Homo sapiens: one gene and its partners. The protein of the gene in region 1 interacts with the protein of each later gene in a biochemical or structural test. Each region holds a gene or a part of one and is shown in the gene's direction. Other genes may lie near its edges.

Region 1 (3,500 bases):
TGTTGGCCAGGCTGGTCTCGAACTCCTGACCTCAAGTGATCTGCCCGCCTTGGTCTTCCAAAGTGCTGGGGATTACAGGCATGAGCCACTGCGCCCGGCCTTGAGTGCAGAATTTAAGGGGGCACTGGAAAACTCAATAATCATGAAAAAAAATGACATTTAAATGCAATATTAAAAAAATTAATACAGGTAAAATATATGGTGAACAAAGTTGGAACTTTGGCCTCCTCCCAAAGGAAGGGAGGAAGGCTTGGGAAGGGCAAGAAGTTGCCCTAGGCTCGGGGAGAACAGAAGCACCAAGGTGGTTTCTCCTTATGCACCTGCTGGTGGGGCAGAACTGAGTCTTCCCCAAGCCCATCTGTAGAGCTCACCACTTAAAACCATGGAGCCTCCTAATCTCAGCCCCATCTCATGTGCTGCCAGGTGGACATCTGTGTGCATCGGTTCCCAGCGATGAATAGTCCCAGCTCTGAGGGGGGAAGCCTAAGTCTGAGCCATGGCAGCATGATAGGGCTATTGAGAGTTCAGGCTGCATTCACATATACCCTCTTGTTGTTCCCCATAAGCCAGCCAAGTACCCCAAACCATCTCTCATATTGTATTATTCAGCAGTGGGTAATCTGTATTTATGAGGGCTACCGGATAGCTGTGGCTCTGCTGGGCTTGGCAGGGCTGGACCAGGCCCCGAGTCCTCTCATTCAAGCCCAGGGAAGGGAGAGGCACTCTGGTGCTTGCTGTTTTCATGGCAGAGGCAATACCTCTGTGGGAACAGGGCCAAACCACACAAGTGCCCTTAGTGCTTTTGCCTGTATAAGGCTCACATCTGCTCACGTTGGCTAAAGTCAGGATGGGGAAGTCTACTCCATCGAGAGCAGGGTTTCTCAGCCTTGGTGCTATTGACATTTTGGGCCATATGAGTCCTTGTTGTGGGGCTGCCCTGTGTATTTTGGGATGTTCAGCAGCATCCCTGACCTCTGCCCACTAGACGCCAGTGGCATCCCCTTTCACTGTGACAATCGAAACTGCTCTCTAGGAGACAAAACTGCCCCCAGTAGGGAACCACTGACTGGAGGTAAGCATGGCAAGAGAGGGGCGGGGTAATTGTGGTCAAAATACAGTCAACCATGTATTCTAAATGCCCCTTGTTGCCAGGCACAGTGGCTACTGGAGAAGCTCTGGTGGGAGGATCGCTGGAGGGCAGGACTTTGAGACACAACATAGCGAGATGCTATCTCTAATCAGTAAAAATAAACAATTAATAAATGTCCATTGTGTGAACATGTGTCTCAATTTTTGGTTCGGAAGGATTGGTCAGCATACAGGGACTCACTTTCTGAAAGAACAAGAGAGCTAAGGCCCTTGTCTGTCAGCCCCGCGATTGCCCGACGTGACTGCAGTCATGGGGTGACCCTCTCTTCATCCCCTCACCTGGCACAGGAAGCTGTTTCTTTGCTCTTGTCCAGTGGTTCTTGGATCAGTGGCGCCTGGGAACTTGTTGGAAATGCAGTCTTAGGCCCCATCCTGGGCCTTCTGGCTCAGAAACTCTGGGGGTGGGGCCCAGCAATCTGTGTGTTAACAAGGCCTCCAGGTGATTTTTACCATTATTAATAGCTACCATGGTACAGGGCTTTGTTACCTAAGATGTGATGAGTGGGGCCTTAGGCAGCTCAGCATCTAGCTACTAGGGGCTTATTTTACACGCACCAGGCTGACTACAGAAAGGCTCCTTCCTCTGCTCTGTAGGAGATGATTGTTATCTGCCTGCTGTAGCATGCTGTATTCTGATGGTTTTGTTCTATCTGTGATGTGGATTTCTTTTCTAAGAACTTTATTTATTTTTAAATTTCCAACATTTAAGTTCAGGGGTACATGTGTAGGATGCACAGGTTTGTTACATAGGTAATGACGTGCCATGGTGGTTTGCTGCACAGATCATCCCATCACCTAGATATTAAGCCCAGCATCCATCAGCCATTCTTCCAGATGTTCTCCTTCCCCCACTCCCCACCATCTGACAGGCCCTAGTGTGTCTTGTCCCTCCACCATGTGTCCATCTGTTCTCATCATTCAGCTCCCACTTACAAGTGAGAATATGTGGTATTTGGTTTTGTGTTCCTGCATTAGTTTGCTGAGGGTAATGGCTTCCAGTTCCATCCATGTCCCTGCAAAGGACAAGATCTCGTTCCTTTTTATGGCTGCATAGTATTCCCTGGTGTATACGTACCACATTTTCTTTATCCAGTCTATCATTGATGGGAATTTAGGTTGATTCCATGTCTTTGCTATCATGAATAGTGAGTGCTGTGATGAACGTAAGAGTGCATGTATTTTCATGATAGAATGATTTATATTCCTTTGGGTATACATCCAGTAATGGGATTGCTGGGCTGAATGGTATTTGTGCTTCTAGGTCTTTGAGGACTCACCACACTGTCTTCCACAATGTTTGAACTAATTTACATCCCAACAGTGTGAAAGCGTTCTTTTTTCTCCACAACCTTGCCAGCATCTGTTGTTTTTTTACTTTTTAATAATAGCCATTCAGACTGGCGTGAGTCGGTATCTCATTGTGGTTTTGATTTGTATTTCTCTAATGATCAGTGATGTCGAGCTTTTTTTCATGTTTGTTGGCCGCATGTATGTCTTTTGAAAACTGTCTGTTCATGTTCTTTGCCCACTTTTTAATGGGGTTATTTTTTTCTTTTATTGAGATGGAGTCTCGCTCTGTTGCCCAGGCTGGAGTGCAGTGGCACAATCTCAGCCCATTGCAACCTCCGCCTCCTGGGTTCAAGTGATTCTCTTGCCTCAGCCTCCTGAGTAGCTGGAACTATAGGTGCATGCCACCACACCTGGCTAATTTTTGTAATTTTAGTAGAGAGGGGGTTTGGCTATGTTGGCCAGGCTATTCTCAAATTCCTGACCTCAGGTGATCCACCCACCTCGGCCTCCCAAAGTGTTGGGATTACAGAAGTGAGCTACTGTGCCCGGCTTATTTTTTTCTTGTAAATTTGTTTTAAGTTCCTTGCAGATGCTGGATATTAGACCTTTGTCAGATGGATAGATTGCAAAAATTTTCTCGCATTCTGTGGGTTGTCTCTTCATTTTGATGATAGTTTCTTTTGCTGTGCAGAAGCTCTTTAGTTTAATTAGATCCCATTTGTCAATTTTTGCTTTTGTTACAATTGCTTTTCGGGTTTTCATCATGAAATCTTTGCCCATGCCCATGTCCTGAATGGTATTGCCTAGATTTTCTTGTAGTGTTTTTATAGTTTTGGGCTTTACATTTAAGTCTTTAATCCATCTTGAGCTGATTTTTATATATGGTGTAAAGAAGGGATCCAGTTTCAATTTTCTGCATATGGCTAGCCAGGTCTCCCAGCACCATTTATTAAATAGGGAATCCTTTCTTCATTGCTTGTTTTTGTCAGGTTTGTCAAAGATCAGATGGTTGTGGGTGTGTGGTCTCGTTTCTGGGTTCTCTGTTCTCTGTTCTTCTACCA
Region 2 (3,500 bases), on another chromosome or scaffold:
TTCTTTCAAACACTTAGAGGACAAAGTCATTTATATATATTTTTCCCCACCCACCCCAGTCATTTATATATTATATGAATGTATATAATATGTATAATATATAAGTATATATATAATATACATATTTTTTGTCGTTGAGGCAAAGTCTCGCTCTGTCACCCAGGCTGGAGTGCAGTGATGCAATCTCGGCTCACTGCAACCTCTGCCTCCCAGGTCCAAGCGATTCTCCTGCCTCAGCCTCCTGAGTATCTGGGATTATATGCATGTACCACCATGCCCGGCTAATTTTTGTATTTTTAGTAGAGATGAGATTTCACCATGTTGGCCAGGCTGGTCTCGAACTCGACCTCAAGTGGTCCACCCACCTCTGTCTCCCAAACTGCTGGGATTACAAGTGTGAGCCACTGTGCCCGGCTGTGATTTATATTTTTATCCAAGAGCACGTAGAATAGTGCCTAGCAGATAGGCCCACAGTAAATCTTCGAATTCATAAATTTATTCACCCTCAGACCCTCAAATGTAGCCACATGACTGCAGATAGATGTAGACAGGCATGAAGGTTACTTTTATTTTATTGTGGGTATTTTGGTTGCTTTTTAAATAAGAAAACTTGGGGGTGATTTGTATCTCTTTCACAAAGGGAGTAGTTTGAGAAAATGTGGGTAACTTGTTCTCCTGTAGTCATGTTTGTGTGTGTGTGCGTGTGCATGTGTGTGTAACATATACAAACAGATGATAACAGCAACAAAAGGGAATAAGTATTTAAAACTACCCTTCCTTAAGTTGGAAAATCAGAAAAAAGACAAGACTCTTCCTTTACTGTCTTTTCTAATTTGAACCTGTAGCCTATTTTCTTCATTTGCTAGAGGAAAATGGATAGATTTTTGTTTCAAACCGTTAAGTTCTTCCCCACCTCTCATATGTTTCTCTGCCTGAGTATGTGTTTGTGTGTGTGTGTGTGTGTGTGGTGTGTTTACTTTTATTCACGTGTTACTTTGAGGGTGAAAAGCCTTCTCTAACATTAGAAAGATTGTTCAAACCCTGAAGGGGCAATTTCCTGAAGTTAGTAAACAACTTCTATTAAAAATCTTTCCTCTGTTTGCTATCCCAGAATAATAGATATGTTAAGAGGAAATGGGCATCCAGAGTCCCTGACTCTTGTTTAAGGAACTCCCTATGCCAGGAAAGAAGTGAGGCTTCCTTCAGAGCTACATACAGGAAAGACTAATCAATAGGTACGCAGTGGGAAAACAAAAATTATTAAACATGCATATTGGTTTCTCAAGGATGCTATTTGTAGTGTCAAGTTGGTTTTAAGAAAGGAAAACATTTTTAGTCATAGTTCCTAGATTTTATATCCTATTACCCAGGCTCATCAGTTTTGATTTTTGACCTGGGCAATCACTTAGAACCACTCTCTTAAACGTGTTTATTATTTTTTTATTTTAATTTAATTTTAATTTTTATTTTTTATTATACTTTAAGTTCTAGGGTACACGTGCACAACGTGCAGGTTTGTTACATAGGTATACATGTGCCATGTTGGTTTGTTGCACCCATGAACTCGCCATTTACATTAGGTATTTCTCCTAATGCTATCCCTCCACCAGCCCTCCACCCCATGACAGGCCCCCATGTGTGACGTTCCCCGCCTGGTGTCCAAGTGTTCTCATTGTTCAATTCCCACCTATGAGTGAGAACATGTGGTGTTTGGTTTTCTGTCCTTGTGATAGTTTCCTCAGAATGATGGTTTCCAGCTTCATCCATGTCCCTGCAAAGGACATGAACTCATCCTTTTTTATGGTTGCATAGTATTCCATGGTGTATATGTGCCACATTTTCTTAATCCAGTCTATCATTGATGGACATTTGGCTTGGTTGCAAGTTTTTGCTATTGTGAATAGTGCTGCAGTAAACATATGTATGCATGTGTCTTTATAGTAGCATGATTTATAATCCTTTGGGTATATACCCAGTAATGGGATGGCTGGGTCAAATGGCATTTCTAGTTCTAGATCCCTGTCTTCCACAATGGTTGAAATGGTTGAACAAGTTTACAGTCCCACCAACCAGTGTAAAAGTGTTCCTATTTCTCCACATCCTCTCCAGCATCTGCTGTCTCCTGCCTTTTTAATGATTGCCATTCTAACTGGTGTGAGATGGTATCTCATTGTGGTTTTGATTTGCATTTCTTTGATGGCCAGTGATGATGAGCATTTTTTCATGTGTCTGTTGGCTGCATAAATGTCTTCTTTTGAAAAGTGTCTGTTCATATCCTTTGCCCACTTTTTGATGGTGTTGTTTTTTTCTTGTAAATTTGTTTAAGTTCTTTGTAGATTCTAGATATTAGCCCTTTGTCAGATGGGTAGATTGCAAAAATTTTCTCCCACTCTGTAGGTTGCCTGTTCACTCTGATGGTAGTTGCTTTTGCTGTGCAGAAGCTCTTTAATTTAATTAGATCCCATTTGTCAATTTTGGCTTTGGTTGCCATTGCTTTTGGTGTTTTAGACATGAAGTCCTTGCCCATGCCTATGTCCTGAATGGTAATGTCTAGGTTTTCTTCTAGGGTTTTTATGGTTTTAGGTCTAACATGTAAGTCTTTAATCCATCTTGAATTAATTTTTGTATAAGGTGTAAGGAAGGGATCCAGTTTCAGCTTTCTACATATGGCTAGCCAGTTTTCCTAGCACCATTTATTAAATAGGGAATCCTTTCCCCATTGCTTGTTTTTGTCAGGTTTGTCAAAGATCAGATGGTTGTAGATGTGTGGTGTTATTTCTGAGGCCTCTGTTCTGTTCCATTGGTCTATATATGTGTTTTGGTACCAGTACCATGCTGTTTTGGTTACTGTCGCCTTGTAGTATAGTTTGAAGTCAGGTAGCCTGATGCCTCCAGCTTTGTTCTTTTGGCTTAGGATTGTCTTGGCAATGTGGGCTATTTTTGCGTCCATATGAACTTTAAAGTAGTTTTTTGCAATTCTCTGAAGAAAGTCATTGGTAGCTTGATGGGGATAGCATTGAATCTATAAATTACCTTGGGCAGTATGGCCATTTTCACGATATTGACTCTTCCTATCCATGAGCATGGAATGTTCTTCCATTTGTTTGTATCCTCTTTTATTTCATTGAGCAATGGTTTGTAGTTCTCCTTGAAGAGGTCCTTCACATCCCTTGTAAGTTGGATTCCTAGGTATTTTTTTCTCTTTGTAGCAATTGTGGATGGAAGTTCACTCATGATTTGGCTCTCTGTTTGTCTGTTATTGGTGTATAAGAATGCTTGTGATTTTTGTACATTGATTTTGTATCCTGAGACTTTGCTGAAGTTGCTTATCAGCTTAAGGAGATTTTGGGCTGAGACAGTGGGGTTTTCTAGATATACAATCATGTCATCTGCAAACAGGGACATTTTGACTTCCTCTTTTCCTAATTGAATACCCTTTATTTCCTTCTCCTGCCTAATTGCCCTGGCCAGAACTTCCAACACTATGTTGAATAGAAGTG
Region 3 (3,500 bases), on another chromosome or scaffold:
TTAATAAACTATGTAAACTTTGGTGGCTAGAGGTTTCAAGGTATAAGGAAGAATATTTACTGTAGTAAAAATAAAAATCGGCTGTTTAAAATGGCCAATTTCTAATTTTTATCTCATAACTAATTTGTTGTGTTGTATTCTCTTTTTTTATTTGAAGTATAGCAGAAAACAGACATTTTTGCAATGCCAAAGAAACTAAAGTCTATTTCCAAGAAACCTGGATTAATGAAAACTGTAAAGAATCTCAGAATGAAAGTGTTGGCTACAATGGTAATTTTGTAGAATGCAGACCAAATATTGAGCAGTGTACTAACAAAGCTACCTTGTTGATTATTGGAGATTCATTTTCTTCATCAAAATGCCCAATAAAGTGTTGGTCTGGGAATCTTAAATTCCATTCTCAGCAGATTTTATTTAGATAGAGGTAACTTGCTCAAGTGGAAAGTTGAGATAGTTACCCTTAAATTACAGGGGTTAATTTCACCAAACAGTTATGTAGTATCTACCAAAGCTATATTGGAGGATATAAAGATGACAAGATAGGTTTTTGCTTTCCAGAAGAGAGTATAGATAATTGTACTAGAAGATAATTATAAGAGACTACAAATAACATTTTAAAAATTATTTGCTATATATCAGACATTGTACTTAGTGTCCTATACACCTTATTTGATCTTCACAACAATCCAATAAGGTAGGTGTTATTTCCATGTTGTGGATCAGGAAACAAGTTCAAGAATGTTAAGGAAATTGCTCATGGTTACATTGTGTGTCTGAGTTTGAACCCAGGTCTGTATGTTTCCCACTACACTATTCTTTTTTTTTTTTCTGGAGACGGAGTCTCGCACTGTCACCCAGGCTAGAGTGCAGTGGTGTGATCTCTGCTCACTGCAATCTCCACCTCCCAGGTTCAAGCGATTCTCCTGCCTCAGCCTCCCAAGTAGCTGGGATTACAGGCACCTGCCACCACACCCGGCTAATTTTTTGTATTTTTAGTAGAGACGGGGTTTCATTATGTTGGCCAGGCTGGTCTTGAACTCCTGACCTCGTGATTCGCTTGCCTCGGCCTCCCAAAGTGCTGGGATTACAGGTGTGAGCCACCATGCCCGGCGCCACTACACCATTATTTAAATTGCCACAGTTCTGGGGAACTATAAATGTTTTGCATCTAATGTTATAGTTGTATGAACTTTCTACAAATTGGCCAAAAACGTAATTAACCAACATTAACTTTACACTACTTGTTAGCTCCGTCTGTAACAAGGAAAAATGATTTCTACATTCCACTTGGTAGTCTATAATTTAGCAGTGTTTTATTATTGTAGATACAGTCTAATATTTCACAAAGAATAATAGTACAAATAATCTTTTTACAGGGTTTCTTCATTAAGAATTACTGTTTCTAATGAAAGGTGTCACATGCTTGCCCAAAACTTCCCAAAAGATTTAACATTACTCTGTAGACTGTGCTTTGCTTTAAAATTTTATACTCACATGTAACCTAGCTCTGTGTTTGACACTTAGTAGGTGCGCAATACATTGATGAGAATGCTCCATTTGTCACGTAGGAGGAGGGATGTCTAGGTTATTTTAAGAGAAGTTCATTATAATCTTTGACATATGAAATTACGTAGTTTTCTTTAATTTACATTTCTAATCCCTTCTCCCAAAAATATTCTCTTTAAAAGTACAAAAGGGATTTCTATAGTAGTTACATCATTCTTCCATATAGCACACTGGTAGTTTACTCATTTAATGGAAAATGAGAAGACGGCATCTAATTTTGCAGTGACACTGGAAAGTGGAAGGTCTGAGTTGGGAGGATTAAAATTTTAGGGTGGTTTGGGGGTTGGTGGTATGAGAAGGTAAACAGGGTAGTTAAGACAGACTTTACATTGTTTTCAAATTAGAAATGTAATGCACATGTATTACAGAAAATCCAGAAAATGTGGAAAAGCACAAAAGAAAATAAAAGTTGCTCATAGTTCTGTCACTTAGAGACTGACAGACTTTTTCCACCTAAAAGTCCCATGGCTGTAGAGTCCATTTTTTCTTTTTTTTCTTTATCTCATTTTACTTACTAGAATTTTGAAGAAAAATGAAGCTCAGAGAATTTTAAGATAGAAATCACAGTAGGTTAAAAACTTTTTTCTTGCCACTGGTTCTAGATGAGTGGATCTAATTAGCTTTTATTGCCTTTTTTAATCTCAAAATATTTCAATTATGAGTCACGGCTTTATTAAGAAGAAAAGTGCAGGCTGGGCATAGTGGCTCACACCTGTAATTCCAGTGCTTTGGGAGGCTGAGACAGGCGGATCACCTGAGGTCAGGAGTTCGAGACTAGCCTGGCCAACTTGGTGAAACCCTGTCTCTACTAAAAATACAAAAATTAGCCAGGTGTGGTGATGTGTGCCTGTAATCCCAACTACTTGGGAGGCTGAGGCACAAGAATTGCTTGAACTCAGGAGGCGGAGGTTGCAGTGAGCTGAGATCACGCAACTGCACTCCAGCCTTGGTGACAGAGTGAGAACCTGTCTCAAAGAAAAGTGCAGTAGTATGGATTTAGTAATAGACAGTAATGAAGTATAGCAACAATTTCTTTGAATAATATAGCAATACAGTGTGTTTTTCCGGCTTAGGTTTGATTGTTGCTGCTCTTATAGACTACCACAATGTTTGTAATTTGCAGCGCATACTTTGCTGAATTAAACATACTAAATAACTTTCCAAATATTTCTTGACTACCAAGATAAAAGTCTGTGTTAAAACTAGTGTTACTAAATGATGGCTCTAAAATGGATTTTTTTGTCATCTCTCATTAGTGTAATAGAGATTAGGTCTAGTATCATGCAATTCCTACCATTCACATAGTGTTGAAATAGGGACAAGTAGGGGCACCTTTTAGACATCATCTCTTTATCCCAGAGCTTAGCATCTGATTCCTTGGGCTCTCTTATTTCTGCTTTTTGAATTTGGCAATGGTAAATTTTCATGCCATTCATCAGAAGCATGTTTACTTTTAAACAAATAAAGTAGTAGTTTGTAAACATCACCTAAAATAATGTTACTTTCATACCATAAATGGTATTTGAATAAAACAGTTAATTCTACATTATTCCCTCATAAAATATACTGTGCTGATAATTGTCAAATGTCTATATTATTTCAAAAGCCAATTTTACTCTACAGTATATGACATTTAATATGATCAACTTTTGATATACAGCAGAGTTCAAACTTGACAGCAAAGTTGAAAACTAGTTAAAAGCTTTAAAAAGATTTAAAATTTAGAGTGGGAAAAATATACTAATGAAAAAGTAATTCCTTAATGAAACAGAAATAGAGAATCTTTATCTTGATGCATGTCTAGCTTGTCTTAATTTTATCTGATGAAATCTTGTTTGAAACTAGCTCTATTATCATACTTGGTTTTTTTTTGCAATCACAAAAATGAAATTTGTGTAACATTATATACATAAATATTGCCTGTAAAAAATGAA
Region 4 (3,500 bases), about 90 Mb from region 1:
GCTGTTTTTATATGCACATATGTTTGTAATTGTATCTTCCTGATGGATCAATCTGTTTATCACTATAAAATATCCCTCTTTGGTAACATTTTTTTCTTTGAAAGGCCATTTTGTTTGATGTTAATATAGCTACTCTAGCTTTCTTGTGGCTTGCTGTTTGCATGATACGTGTTTATCCCTTTATTTTCAAGCTGTTTATATCTGTGAAACTAAAGTGTGTCTCCTGTGGACAGCATATAGTTGGATCTTGGTTGGTTGGTTGGTTGGTTGGTTGGTTGGTTGGTTGGTTTTGATCCTGTCTGGCTGTCCATTTCTTTTGATTGGGTTGTTTACTCCAATCACATTTAACGTTATTTATTGATATAGTTGGATTTATGTCTGCCATTTTGTCGTGTTATATATGTCTTTTGTTTCTCTATTCCTCCTTTATTGCTTTCTTTTGCATTAAGTGAGAATTTTCTAATTTATAGCATTTGAATTTCTTTACTGATTTTTTTCATTGACACTGCTTTTACTAGGCTTTTTTGGGTTTTGTATGTGAACTCAGATTACCGTCTGTGGTCACTGGCTTTCAGCCAGAAATTCTTATGGTATTTCTTGTAAGGCAAGTCCGCTACCAACAAATTCTCTGTTTGTTTTTTTTCTTTGTTTTGTTGTTGTTGTTGTTGTTGTTGTTGTTTTTATGGGAATGTCTTTGTTTCTCCTTCATTCTCGAAAGATAATTTTGATAGTATAGGATTCTTTGCTGAAATTTTCTTTTTCTTTGAGCACTTTGAATGTGTTATCACACTGCTTCTGTCTTCCATTGTTTCTGTTAAGAAGTCAGAATCTTTTTGGGGTTCCTTGTAAATAACAAGTGTTTTTTTCTCTTGCTGCTTTTAAGATTTTCTTATCTTTAACTTTTGCCATTTTTACTATGATGTGTCTGTCTGTGGATATCTTTGTGTTATCTTACTTGAAGTTTATTGAGCTTTTTCTGAATGTGTAGGTGGTTGTTTTTCAATAAATTTGGAGAAGCTTCAGCCATTGTTTCTCTGAAGTTTTTTTCTGCTCTTTTCTCTTTTCCTCTCTTTCTGATATTCCCATTATGTGTATTTGAAGGGAAATATAGCAAATAAAACAAAATTTTAATGCAAATATTTAAACCAAGCAGTTCTACCCACAGAAATTTATCTTAAAGTAATGGGCAAGTATACATGGATGTATGTACAAGAAAGTATATCCTAGCACATTTGTGTAGTAGAAAGGTTAGAAAAAACAGGAGGAGGAAGCTAAATACATTATGATATTCTGTACAGTGAGATATTATAATATACAATTTTTATAACTCAGGTGGAATATATTTGGTATGTTGTATAAGATGTATTTGGGATTTTAGGTTGTTTGTTGATACATCTCCTCTATACACCTGTGCAAGTTTCTCTGGGGCAGCAGTTATGTTTTCTATGTAGATATTCCCTACAATATGACAGGCCTCTTAACGTCTTTCTCCTCACCTCCCAGTTCTGGGTAGTAGGCAAAGGTCTTTCTTTTTTATTTTATTTTTTTATTTATTTTTGAGATGGAGTCTTGCTCTGTCGCCAGGCTGGAGTGCAGTGGCGCGATCTCGGCTCACTGTAGCCTCCGACTCCCTGGTTCAAGTGATCCTCCTTCCTCAGCCTCCCGAGTAACTGGGATTACAGGCAAGCGCCACCACGCCCAGCTAATTTTTGTATTTTTAGTAGAGACGGGGTTTCACCATGTTGGCCAGGATGGTTTTGATCTCCTGACCTCGTGAACCGCCCACCTTGACCTCCCAAAGTGCTGGGATTACAAGTATGAGTCACTGTGCCCGGCCAGCAAGGGTCTTTCTAAAGAACCCTAGGTTATACTACATGATTGAGAGCTCAGAACGAGGACTGCTTTTCTGGCCTAGTTTTTTTGATACCAAGTCTGTTCTGGCCTCAGCTTTGATTTACCTAATTATTTTCTGTCTTCTCCTTTGAGAATGTATATTCTTTTAACATTCTTTTAGACTAGAACCCATAGACAAAGAGTAACGTTTAAAGATTTTAGGCATTAAAAGCAGTCAGACTTCCTAGGTTCAAATTCTGGCTCTTAAGGACCTTGGGCAAGTTACTTAGTCTCTAAATCTCACTTCATAGTACCTATGTCTAAGGTCCTGAAAATTGGACACAAGTAATGTTTAAATAATTTTATTTCTGTCTTTCGGGGCCTTAGGGAAAGCCATAGAACTTTACATATCACCCATATGGCAGAAATATAAATACATACTGATCCTTTTAAGGATTTTATATTTTCCTTTTTTGCAGATTTGAAATAATGCTGTCCATTGGTAGAAAAATAATAGTATGACCTATGATCTACCAACAGTGATAAGGCTTACTCTTTGAATTTTGTTTTTCCAGTAAAATTAATTGATGGATTTGTACAGTGGATATCCAGTTAAAGGTATAGCCTTAAATCAATTCTTGACAACCCAGGATCTTTATTATTAGTAGTAGTAGTTGCCAAAAATAAAAGGCATGCTCACAGAAGCTTGTAAGGCCATGTGGTCCCAAATAAGTTGACTATGTTTTTAAATAGTTTATTGAGATATGATTTGTATATCATAACATTCACCCTTTGTAGGTGAACAATTCAGTAATTATCAGTAAATTTATAGAGTTGTGCAGTCATTACCACAATCCATTGTTAGAACATTTCATCACCCCAAATATCCCTGCTCCCACCCCAGCCCTAGGCAGCCACTGATCTGCTTTCTAGCTCTATAAATTTCTATTTTCAGGACATACAAGTGGAATCATACAATGTGTAGTCTTTCTGCTTCTGCCTTCTTTCACTTACATCAGTATTTCATTTTATTGCCAAACCATATTCCATTATATGAATATACTACATTTTGTCAACTCCATTTACCAGCTGTTGTACATTTGATTTGTTTCCAGTTTGGTGCTTTTATGGATAATGCTGCTATGAACATTTGCATGTAAGTCTTAGTGTAGGCTGGGCGCGGTGGCTCACGCCTATAATCCCAGCACTTTGGGAGGCCGAGGCGGGTGGATCACCTGAGGTCAGGAGTTCGAGACCAGCCTGGTCAACATGGCCTGTCTCTACTAAAAATATAAAATTTAGCTGGGCATGGTGGCGTGCCCCTGTAATCCTAGCTACTCGGGAGATTGAGGCAGGAGAATCGCTTGAACCCTGGAGGCGGAGGTTGTAGTGAGCCGAGATCGTACCACTGCACTCCAGCCTGGGTGACAGAGCAAAACTCCGTCTCAAAAAAAAAAAAAGTCTTTGTGTAGACATACGTTTTCACTCCTCTTGGGTAAATTCTTGGGGGTGGAATTATCAGGTCCTACGGTAAACTTACCACTAACATCTTAAGGAATTGCCACACTGTTTCCAAAGAGTACTGGATTGTTAATGATGGAAGCCTTCAGAATTTCTCTTTCCTTCTGTTACTTGCTGTTGTCATTATCCCCTGTTCCCTCTTCCCT
Region 5 (3,890 bases), on another chromosome or scaffold:
GAGGGCCACTTTGGACACACAAGGCTTCCTCAGGTCCAGTGTAGTGCTCCTGGCACCTTTCCTTATTTTTTTCTCTGTCGGTAACAGCACTTTGCAAATCTCTCTGACGGTCCAGTCTTTTCAGGCATTGTTGTGGATGTGGGAACACTCAGTTCATAATAACCTTTCCTAGGCCTTCCCTCCTGGTCTACCCCTTTCAGATATTTCCTGATGCCCCTATGATCTTCCCACCTGGCAGTCACTTCACAGGTTGAACATCTAACTTCTGCTGCCCCCCCGTTACCCAGCCCAGAGAATGGTGGGGACCCTGTTCCTGGCTGAAAGAGAGCCACGGAACACAGGCCTCTGGAGCTCGGCAGCTGCCCACCGGTGGAGAGGTACTCACAGCCTTTCAAAGGACCCTGAGGTGGGGAATCTTCATTCTGCACTTAGCATGTGGCTGCCTGTTACCTGACATTCTGGCCCAGCTTCTTCTGAAAATCTGTCCTGCTTCTCCCACCCCTTTCCCCCATCCTGTCCTAGAACTAGCAGTGAGGCAATCACCCTAGAAACTCGAGTTACACCCATTCTGGCTAACTCGATTAAAAGAAAGAACATGGATATCTTATTTTCCTATGTGACTTTTGTGAATCTGTGAGATGAACACAACACACATCGTGGAAGATGAGGGGCCAAGAACTGCGCAGCATCCGACTACAGGGCATTAAACCCTCCCATGTGATGTCTCCTTCTCGTCTGAACCTTAACTCATTCTGGCGATTCCTTTCCTACTTGCTTAAAAATCCCCAATTAGGAAAAAAATGCCAACCTCCTCCCAGGCTTGGGGTTATCTTGATCTTTCATTTCAACGTTGAGGTCTAGTGCACACAGAACTTGAAACACCGCACTCTGTCAACAGCAATAATCCACTCAGTACTGTGGGATGGATGGGTTAATGGATGAGAAAACGGCACCAAGACTGACTTTGGGTATTTGGTATATTTACCGTGGTTACACTCTGGACTGGTTGATTCTTCTGCATGTGATATAGAAAAAAGTGCTGCATGCGGTGAACCTGTCAGTCTGGGACTGGGGGTGAGTTGTTGTTATGAGTTTGGGGTGGTGTGAGGAAAGTGAATGCTGCTTAGCTCATCTGTAGCTCATTGCAATGAATTCAGTAAGAATGGAGTACAGGGATTATCTGTGTAGCATAGGCATGCAATGTTTGACCAAGCTCTTACCCTCGCACTGTAATGTGTTGAAATGTCTTTGTAGACCTGAAGGTGCACTTAACAAAACTGCCTATTAAGGGATGACTATTTTTTGGTTTACTTATTCATATTTATTTTAGCAGCCTTTTTACCTTTTCTTCCCCTTCCTAGGCATGGAGCTGTAACAGCTCATGTCCTGACTATGTGTTTTCTCCAGAAGGAGAAGACTTCTGATGTGCTGATAGCTATAATTCCTCTCTTCCAGTCTATTGGGGCCCTAGTTCAATAGGGTGGCAATAGAAGAGTTGGTCACACCAGGGCTGTTAGCCATCCCAGAATCTCTGAAGTGGTTAACTCACCTGAAGTGATCTGAATCAGAGAGACCAAAGACATTCATTTCCTCTGTCCTCAGATTTCTAGAAGACAAATTCTAGCCAGGAAAACTTTCTGTTTTTGCATCTCCCTTTTCCCATTTGTGCCCAACTCCCCTTGCACTCCCTGGAGACTTGAGTTCTGATTTTCAGTTATATCAGCTCATTGGGAGTGTGTTCGTGGGTGAGCCTTGCAGAATCAGATAAACCAATAGCAAGTCCTTCTCCAGGATTCTGGCCAGTGGGCAGTCATTTCCCTGAAATGAATTGTAGGGCAGGTTTAGATTCCACTATGGTGGACGTGAAGCACAGGTGGTGTCACAATCTTGATTTGCTTGAGAATTAAAAAAATACATGTAAATGGTAAATGAGGAATACATTTTTTTAAAGTAGAAATTTGGTTTAGCCTATAAAAGGCCTTCTTCACATTGTGTATAGTTACACGTTTTTCAAATTAGGTACCATCTAAAAGTCAATAAAAATAGTTTCCTAGCCCTCTCATTTAATATAGGAGACCTCAAAACACATGCTTTTTAACAATTTTACATTTTAATTCTTAGTTTGGTAGATTGGATTGAAAGAAAGGAGAAAGAACATTAGCAGAAGGCACTTTCCCATTTTCTTCCAGGAATGACTTATTCCTGGGGTGGTGAGAATTGGTGGGTGGTAACCATCCATAGTATAAAATTGTTAGAAAGAATATAAACTGCCAAACAAGCATGTTATCTTCAGGCTTTTCCAAGCAAGAATGAAGTCTTTTGATGTTTATGTTCATTTTAAGAAGACAAACAAACTAAAATTTTAAGACCAGACACAACCCAAGTTGAATTGTGATCTCAGGAGGTGAACTCTCATTCACCATGTGGCATATTACTACCTGTATTTATATCATGGAATTTCAGGGTATATGTGAACATGTCTAGTATGACTCAGGTAAACCTTTAAAGAATGTATGTTACTTACCATTTTTGTAAAGAAGCAAACAGGAGCTGAATTGTTAACCAAAACTGTTCCATTACCTTGGGTCACTGTGCAAACTAATTCAGGGTACAGATATAAAGTTTAGAAGCCTTGGGATTAAATGCCAGCCTCTTTGCTCAGGCAAAATGACCCTGGGCTTTCTTGGGAAGTCCAGCATGTATGTAAGGGGTGAGGCCCTGCTGACCTCAGGGCTTTTCGCTTTAAGGAGATTAACCCTAGTCACAGTGATTTTCATTTAGGAGCTAACTAGGAGTTTACTCTTTATGACGTGAAACTTCAAAGAGTATAGAAAACTTTTGTACCACAATCAAAGAAGAAGAAATGGTGTATGGAAAGAAAACAAAACAAAACAAGAAATCTCTTGTAAAATATTCCAGGTCAAAGTTGTCTCCTCTCCAAACCTTGCAGAAGCACCTTTCTTCTCTTCAGCGCACTGTTTTGGGACTGTTTATGCAGCAGATGTAAGTAGACAACATGGACTCCATGTGACATGCCTCTAATAGTAAAGATAAAGTATTACTGAGGTTAAAAATAAAAATTGAGTAGTATTAATTTAAAGTGCACCATCAGGACAACAAACCATTTAAGCTGAAAAAACGCTATTTTATTTCTTGAGTTTGCCAGTTGCTTCCACCTTGAGTTAAGGACGTGTCTCATCTTCACCTACTGCGCATTCTCCCTTCTCTAACTGTGTAATATGTCAGGTCAAGGACATTGAATGTTATGAATTGAGAACCTAATTGATGCGCATAGTTTTCATCTATGCAATTTTACTTGCTTCTGTCACTTTACGATCTGTTCATATTTGGCATCAATTAAAGATACTTTTTAAGGATCTTATCAAGGAATATCTTGACTGGTTATTTGTCTCTTGTTTAACTGGTCTTTTGGGGGCCCTTTTCTTCCCTTCTTCTGTGGGGTCTCTTTAAATAGTGGGGTGAATCCAAGATCAGATCATGAAACAGACTTGTTTCCTTTGGCCCACGTGGTCTGTTTCTGCTGTCCAAGGACATATCCGGGGGTTACCTTTTGAGGATAAATTCAGTTTGGTCTCAGGTAAGATCCCAAGTGAAGACCACTGGAATTTGGCCTGTGGAAGTTAGAGTGGAAGGAGGATCAAGCTTTCAAAATAAAACAAGAAATGAGGCTCAGGGGAACAAAGTAATTGGTTATATCCACTTAAGTTGTTTTGATTTGAAACTAGTTTTTATGCACAGTCTGAGAAGCTTTGCAGGAAGAATAATTGTGGGTGTGTGTGTGAGAGAGAGAGAGGGAGACAGAGACAGAGACACGACTGTGTGTGTGAGTGTAACAGAGTTGTGGTCTGGAATCAACTGACTTGATAGTT
Region 6 (3,301 bases), on another chromosome or scaffold:
TCACCATCATATTGGTCAGCCATAAAGTTTCTTACATGACTATCTAGGATTCCCCTGACACTGAAGTCTGAGGTGATTAAGAAGCAAGGATGGGCAATGGAGTTATTCTACTGCTATATTCTGGAAAGGTACTTGCATGGCAACATACCTGTTAGAATCTAACAAAGCCTGAAAGCTTAGCACATTTTGCCAGCAAGATTGTCCTGAGGCACTGGGCCCATACTCAAGTGAGTAACACCACTACAGTACATTCCAGCACCAATAAACACAACCATCTGCTCAGTTCTACTATTATTTATTTTTTTAAATATTTTTGAAAAAATATAATTTTTTTACAATATTTTCAACTTAAACACTATTCACACTGAACACGTATGGCAGCTTAACCTACCCAAATATGAAGTTTAAGAAGCCAAAACTGTTCTAGCTTTGTTAAAAGTTGTGCTGCAGACTCTCGTGATGGTTAACAAAGCAAGGAAAAGCACCACTCAAATCATGTTACAGTATCTTTGTTCAGCTGGATTATGGGTTGGTATTGGTCATATGTTAGACTCCATACAGGCATAGCTATGATGCAGTGAATCCCTTAGAAGTTACAATTCTCAAATTACATACTTCCTCAGATGTAACATTAGAACTCAATATTTCTAACAATAACATACCAGAAAAGGCTGGACTGGCACTCATCTGCTGACTAACTTGTAGCCTCAGTAATATGACATACTTGCCTTTAACAAATTATCTCAAATTAACTAACAGACCTTCAGAAAATGGAGATTCTTTTTGATGGGGACATAATCAAATTTAAGTCTGAGAAATATGCTTAACAGTTGGAACTCAAATTAAATGTACTGATTTTAAAGTTTAGACATTAACAAGTGATAGATTAGCCTCAAAAAAAGACAATTTGGTAAGGTTTAGGTCTTTTAATTTGGTGCTTGTTCACAACTTGACTGGTGCTTCTTTCCTTGCTGTCTTCACATCAAGCCATGGGGCCAATTCTATTTTCAGTAAATGTTTGACAGCTTTTTACTTAGTAACAGTCTCAGCACTTTTATTAAGCATGCAAGACTAACAAAAACTTTGGCAATGCATAAGTGTAACACAGTGACAAGAGAGCTTTTACAATTAAGTCTTCTAATACTGCCTTCACAGTGTGGAAATTGTGCTACATCCACCAAAAGAGGGCCCCGTCTACTCAAATATTTCCGTACTTCACCCCAGGAACAAACTCCTTTGCATTTGGATTCAGATTGCTCTTGACCTGGAAAATAAGTACATAAAAAAGCAAGTTCATTAACACAGTTTCAGGTACTAATTCAATCTAGATCCTCATGCAAAAACATCTTCCAAAAAAAAAAAGACAAAAGAACTCAGTCTGTAAGACTATACTAAACCCCAAAAAGGAAGAACCAGATGTAAGCTATATATCATATTAAATTACATCAACTTTTTCTTTTCTTTTTTTGTGACGGAGTCTTGCTCTGTCGCCCAGGCTGGAGTGCAGTGGCACAATCTAGGCTTACTGCAACCTCTGCCACCTGGGTTCAAGCGATTCTCCTGCCTCAGCCTCCTGAGTAGCTGGGACTACAGGCGCGTGCCACCACACCCAACTAATTTTTTGTATTTTTATTTATTTATTTAGTTTTTTTTTTATGAGACGGAGTCTCACTCTGTCACCCAGGCTGCAGTGCAGTGGCGCGATCTCAGCTCACTGCAAGCTCCGCCTCCCGGGTTCACACCATTCTCCTGTCTCTCATCCTCCTGAGTAGCTGGGACTACAGGCGCCCACCGCCACGCCCAGCTAATTTTTTGTTGTATTTTTAGTAAAGACGGGGTTTCACCATGTTAGCCAGGATGGTCTCGATCTCCTGACCTCGTGATCCGCCCGCCTTGGCCTCCCAAAGTGCTGGGATTACAGGCGTAAGCCACCGCGCCCGGCCTAATTTTTCGTATTTTTAGTAGAGAAGGGGTTTCACCATGTTAGCCAGGATGGTGTTGATCTGACCTCGTGATCTGCCTGCCTCGGCCTCCTAAAATGCTGGGACTACAGGCGTGAGCCACTGCACCCGGCCTAAATTACATCAATTTTCTAAAGAGAAAATAGGAATTGAAATTCAGTTTGCTTAAGTGTAACCAGAAATCCAGTAACTTCACATAAGTTAAAGGAATAGCACGGAACAAGGAATTCTGTTAATCGAACTATGGTATGTAGCTTTCTTTAAACACTAAATACCAAGGAACCATGTTAAACAAGTGTTGAAATTATGATTAAAGTAACTGGGGAATTGCTGATTTTACTTTAGAATCCTCACTAAAAATGTGGAGTTGTTTTTCTACAATTGCCATCTTCTAATTCCCACAGGAAGCATGGTATATAACAGGAAAAGAAAACTACATGGGGAACCAGAAGACCTAAGCCTGAAATCCCAGCCCTGCCCCTAACTAACTTCTGTGTAAACTCAGATAAGTCACCTTTCTCTGGGATTCAAATTTTTGCATCAGTTAAAAAAAAAGGGGTGGGGGGGAATGGGCCAAAGTCTGAGTCTTAGAGACTTGTACCAATGTTATGCTATGTCTCTAAATCTTTACTCTCCTAAGTAGACTTGTCAGCATCTAGGAAGAACAGCTAGAAATTTTCCTCTGTGATATTTTAGACTGCAAGTTGAAAAAAATAAAAAGAAATGAGGGCAGGTTCCAGGGCCTGAAATGTAGGTATGCTGCAAGGCTTTTACATTGAATTTGACCCTACATCACTTCAAGACTAATGCATAATATTAAACATCATGTTGAAGAAATAATTTTAGTTTCGTAATTTATACATAGCAGTTTCTTTGGACAGGATATATTCTCCCTTCCCCCAAGGGAAATAATGTATCTACATTTTAAAAGTGTGAAGTTTAAGAAAAAAAAGCAGCATTCCTTTTCTCTTTTTTTGAGACATGGACTCGCTCTGTTGCTTAGACTGGAGGGCAGCGGAACAATCACAGCTCACTGCAGCATCGGCCTCCTGGGCTCAAGTGATCCTCTGGCCTCTGCCTCCCAAGTACCTGGGACCACAGGCCTGTGCCACCACACCCAGCTAACTTTAAACTTTTTGTAGAAACAGGGTCTCCCTTTGTTGCCCAGGCTGGTCTCGAACTCCTGGGCCAAAGTAATCTTCCCACTTTGGCCTCCCAAAGTGCTGGGATTACAAGCATGAGCCACCACATCCAGGCACAGTGTTCTTAAATGAACAATTTTCTGGGAGCAACAGAAGAATGAAACAAAGTAATATCAAATAGACTGAGAAGAACAAACC
Region 7 (3,500 bases), on another chromosome or scaffold:
TAATAGTCAGGGGGATTTCTGGAAAAGCATGGTCAAAATGGATTTGTTAGATGAATATTTTTAACTTTTTAAAAATCCCTATTGCTCAGCTTATAGTAAACAAGGACTGTGATTAATAAGTGTGAAATAAAAGGAAGTAACTTAAGAAAACACAAAAGACACAATCTTTTATGTTTCTTGATCTTGGTCTCAATAAGATGGTGAATCGGTCATTCTCATCCTCCTGGGAGCAAATGAGCAGAATCCCAAGAAGGCAATAAAGAAATCTTAAACGCATGTTAATAAATTCTTAAGTTAAGCACACAATGTGTGCGTGTACCCACACATGCCAATTTTGATAGCCAGCCAGTATTTATAACAGTATCATTGACTGAATGTCATCAGCCCATAAGCAGATCCTGGAAAGAACATATATAGTTGAATTTTATCTAAATAATTACTTGAGAGTATCTTTAAAAAATCTAAGCCCCTGATCTAGGGATTTCAGGTTTGGGTGGCAAGAGGCATACAGAAGGCTCCAAATCTGCCTAGAATGATTAGACTCCATCCAGAAAAGATCCAGATCTTTTTATTATAATTTCTGAGGCATAATCTGTGAATGACGTTGGTTGAGTGAGAGTTGTTTACAAATATACTAATTGTTTTTCTTTTTCTTTTCCATCCCAGGAGGTGAATTAGTTATCCCTCTTCTTGTAGAAGACCCTTTAGCTACCCCTCCTATTGCTACTCGTGCACCTTCCATTACACTCCCCCCTACCTTTCGCCCCCTCCTCACCATTATTGAGACCACCAAAGATTCCCTGTCCATGACCTCTGAGGCGGGGTTACCTTGCTTGTCGGACCAAGGCAGCGATGGTTGTGATGATGATGGCTTGGTGATATCTGGGTATGGCTCAGGGGAAACCTTTGACTCTAACCTGCCCCCTACTGATGATGAAGATTTTTACACCACCTTCTCCTTGGTAACAGATAAGAGTCTTTCCACTTCAATCTTCGAAGGTGGCTACAAAGCACATGCGCCCAAGTGGGAATCCAAGGACTTTAGACCTAACAAAGTCTCCGAAACTAGTAGGACTACTACCACATCTTTATCCCCTGAGCTGATCCGCTTCACAGCTTCCTCCTCGTCTGGGATGGTGCCCAAATTGCCAGCTGGCAAAATGAATAACCGTGATCTCAAACCCCAGCCTGATATAGTCTTGCTTCCGTTGCCCACTGCCTATGAGCTAGACAGCACCAAACTGAAGAGCCCACTAATTACTTCCCCCATGTTCCGTAATGTGCCCACAGCAAACCCCACGGAGCCGGGAATCAGACGGGTTCCGGGGGCCTCAGAGGTGATCCGGGAGTCGAGCAGCACAACAGGGATGGTCGTCGGCATTGTGGCTGCTGCCGCCCTCTGCATCTTGATCCTCCTGTACGCCATGTACAAGTACAGGAACAGGGACGAGGGGTCCTATCAAGTGGACGAGACGCGGAACTACATCAGCAACTCCGCCCAGAGCAACGGCACGCTCATGAAGGAGAAGCAGCAGAGCTCGAAGAGCGGCCACAAGAAACAGAAAAACAAGGACAGGGAGTATTACGTGTAAACATGCGAACACTGCTCACACGCGAGTTTTCACAGTTATTTCTATCCACGCCTATGAATCTTTGGACGGTGAGATCTCACAGATGTCAGAACTGCTGGAACTATGAAATGGGGTATATAACCACGACTCTGGTGGGGAAAACCGTTTTTTAAAGGACACACACACACACAGCGATGCATCTCTCTCTAAAGCTCAGCCACGGCTGCGGCAAGGTCCCAGCGGTCGCTGGGAGACAGAAGGTTTTGTGCCCTGCTGTATCATAAAGCACACACTTAGCGCTCTGGAGCCGGACGGTGGCTCCACCACTTCCGCAGGCCTGGAAACTTCCTTCTCCGGAGGACCTTTTACTAAAAGGTAGAAGACTTCATGGCTTACTTGTTCCATAACTCCAAGTGAGTCTGTAATGTTTGTGAAGCTTGACTGTAACCATGTTTTTTCTGTTTAATTATGTAAAAAACAAAACTACAACAACAAAAAAAGAAAAAAGTTAAAAAAGAAAAAAACACCAAAAAACAAAAACAAACAAAAAAAAAAACCCACAACCCTTATCTGGTTCTGACCAGTGTGCGTGTAACTTTATGATCTGAGGGGAAAAATGGCTTTTGGGTTTTTGTTTATTTTTTTGATAATGACTGGACATCAGAAGAGGAAAAAAACTCAAAACAAAAGCGAGAGAGACTATTGCCATATGAACTCAAAAGCTATCATGGTGTTCACTCTACATATCAGGTTATGGTGTCTCTAGAATCTGTTGTTTGTTTCCTATAAGATGCTTTGCTGAACACATAGCAAAATTCATGTGACGGATGATAAATTGATTCGAAAAGCTGGTCCCCCAGGATCTAATTTCAGAATTTACCACCCAAACCCGGAACAGATGGGTTTAGGGCTGGTGTTATCAGAGCTATTGGCTTTACGTAACAATATTGTTCCTGTCCATTCACCCAGCCAAATTGTGTTAAAGAGGAAAGCCCCACAAACTAAAACAGCCTTTCCTAGGGAAGAGGAAGGGGAGGTGGGCTGGATCTGTGACTGATTGAAATGCATGCAAATAAAAAAGACAATATTAAAGTCTGTTATCAAACCAGACAGTAGGGGAGTTCAACTCGTGATGGAACCACAAAAGGTCACACAAGCCAACCATGTCATGCCAGAGTACAAAACACATAGTTCTTTCCCCGCCCCGAATGTGACAATGGTTTTCATAGTGGTTTAATTTTGTAGCCTGACATTTATGGATAACTCTGTCCTTCCATTTGCTCACTTCTCTCTTCACCCATCTTTTTTAAAAACAAATAAATGAATAAAGCTGCTGTGACACACACACAAAAGGAATTTAATAGTATAATATATATATAAATAAATATATATACAGATATATTTATCATGGTATGTTTGATGGGATGACTGACACAGGAAATCTGTTAAAGTCTTAAAATGGAATGAGAATGTTGTTTTAAAAGAAAATAGCAAAACAACAAAAAAGCAAACCTTAAAATGTGAAGAAAGTGTGAATTTTAGTTTTGTCACAGTTAACTGTGTCAAAGAGAATTAAAAAAAAAAACTTCAGATTTTGTTTACATATTTTACTACATTTTTGCTGGTATAATTCCTTAGCCACCTATGTACATACTGCTTTAAGAAATGTTTTTTTCCTGTTTATTTCTGTTTGGTTTATATTCTGGTTGTCTTTTTCTTTTTGTAAAGAGGAAACAATGTACAGAAAAACAATAAACTGGTTGTATGGCCATAGCTATCCGAAAAGCAAGAGACAAAGCAAGACAAATATTCACACAAAAATGAAGTGTGTCCTCTGGAGGGTCAGATATACAATTTCTTTTGTACAGATGAAAATCAATCAGCTGCTTAGATTTAGAAATCTACTCTTGCTGGTCTTTGTAAGTTGCA

What was found.
Region 2: the proteins of PDLIM1 (region 1) and SLC15A2 interact in a test that uses a peptide from one of them, tested with the Homo sapiens proteins (one large-scale study listed by IntAct).
Region 3: the proteins of PDLIM1 (region 1) and PKN2 interact in a test that uses a peptide from one of them, tested with the Homo sapiens proteins (one large-scale study listed by IntAct).
Region 4: the proteins of PDLIM1 (region 1) and NET1 interact in a test that uses a peptide from one of them, tested with the Homo sapiens proteins (one large-scale study listed by IntAct).
Region 5: the proteins of PDLIM1 (region 1) and KCNA1 interact in a test that uses a peptide from one of them, tested with the Homo sapiens proteins (one large-scale study listed by IntAct).
Region 6: the proteins of PDLIM1 (region 1) and SLC23A1 interact in a test that uses a peptide from one of them, tested with the Homo sapiens proteins (one large-scale study listed by IntAct).
Region 7: the proteins of PDLIM1 (region 1) and NRXN3 interact in a test that uses a peptide from one of them, tested with the Homo sapiens proteins (one large-scale study listed by IntAct).

Annotation. Positions count from the first base shown.
Region 1 is NC_000010.11:95,239,004-95,242,503, reverse strand, and holds part of PDLIM1 (PDZ and LIM domain protein 1), read left to right. Parts: intron 1-3,500. UniProt on the Homo sapiens protein: Cytoskeletal protein that may act as an adapter that brings other proteins (like kinases) to the cytoskeleton. Involved in assembly, disassembly and directioning of stress fibers in fibroblasts.
Region 2 is NC_000003.12:121,900,901-121,904,400, forward strand, and holds part of SLC15A2 (solute carrier family 15 member 2), read left to right. Parts: intron 1-3,500. UniProt on the Homo sapiens protein: Proton-coupled amino-acid transporter that transports oligopeptides of 2 to 4 amino acids with a preference for dipeptides. Transports neutral and anionic dipeptides with a proton to peptide stoichiometry of 2:1 or 3:1.
Region 3 is NC_000001.11:88,687,273-88,690,772, forward strand, and holds part of PKN2 (serine/threonine-protein kinase N2), read left to right. Parts: intron 1-3,500. UniProt on the Homo sapiens protein: PKC-related serine/threonine-protein kinase and Rho/Rac effector protein that participates in specific signal transduction responses in the cell.
Region 4 is NC_000010.11:5,419,057-5,422,556, forward strand, and holds part of NET1 (neuroepithelial cell-transforming gene 1 protein), read left to right. Parts: intron 1-3,500. UniProt on the Homo sapiens protein: Acts as a guanine nucleotide exchange factor (GEF) for RhoA GTPase. May be involved in activation of the SAPK/JNK pathway Stimulates genotoxic stress-induced RHOB activity in breast cancer cells leading to their cell death.
Region 5 is NC_000012.12:4,914,867-4,918,756, forward strand, and holds the end of KCNA1 (potassium voltage-gated channel subfamily A member 1), read left to right. Parts: 3' UTR 1-3,390; downstream 3,391-3,890. UniProt on the Homo sapiens protein: Voltage-gated potassium channel that mediates transmembrane potassium transport in excitable membranes, primarily in the brain and the central nervous system, but also in the kidney.
Region 6 is NC_000005.10:139,366,696-139,369,996, reverse strand, and holds the end of SLC23A1 (solute carrier family 23 member 1), read left to right. Parts: intron 1-279; exon of another isoform or gene 280-1,198; coding exon of another isoform or gene 1,199-1,264; intron 1,265-2,365; 3' UTR 2,366-2,801; downstream 2,802-3,301. Other genes in the region: PAIP2 (polyadenylate-binding protein-interacting protein 2), read right to left, coding at 1,199-1,264.
Region 7 is NC_000014.9:79,860,373-79,863,872, forward strand, and holds part of NRXN3 (neurexin 3), read left to right. Parts: intron 1-666; coding exon of another isoform or gene 667-969; coding exon 970-1,592; 3' UTR 1,593-3,500. UniProt on the Homo sapiens protein: Neuronal cell surface protein that may be involved in cell recognition and cell adhesion. May mediate intracellular signaling. Functions as part of a trans-synaptic complex by binding to cerebellins and postsynaptic GRID1.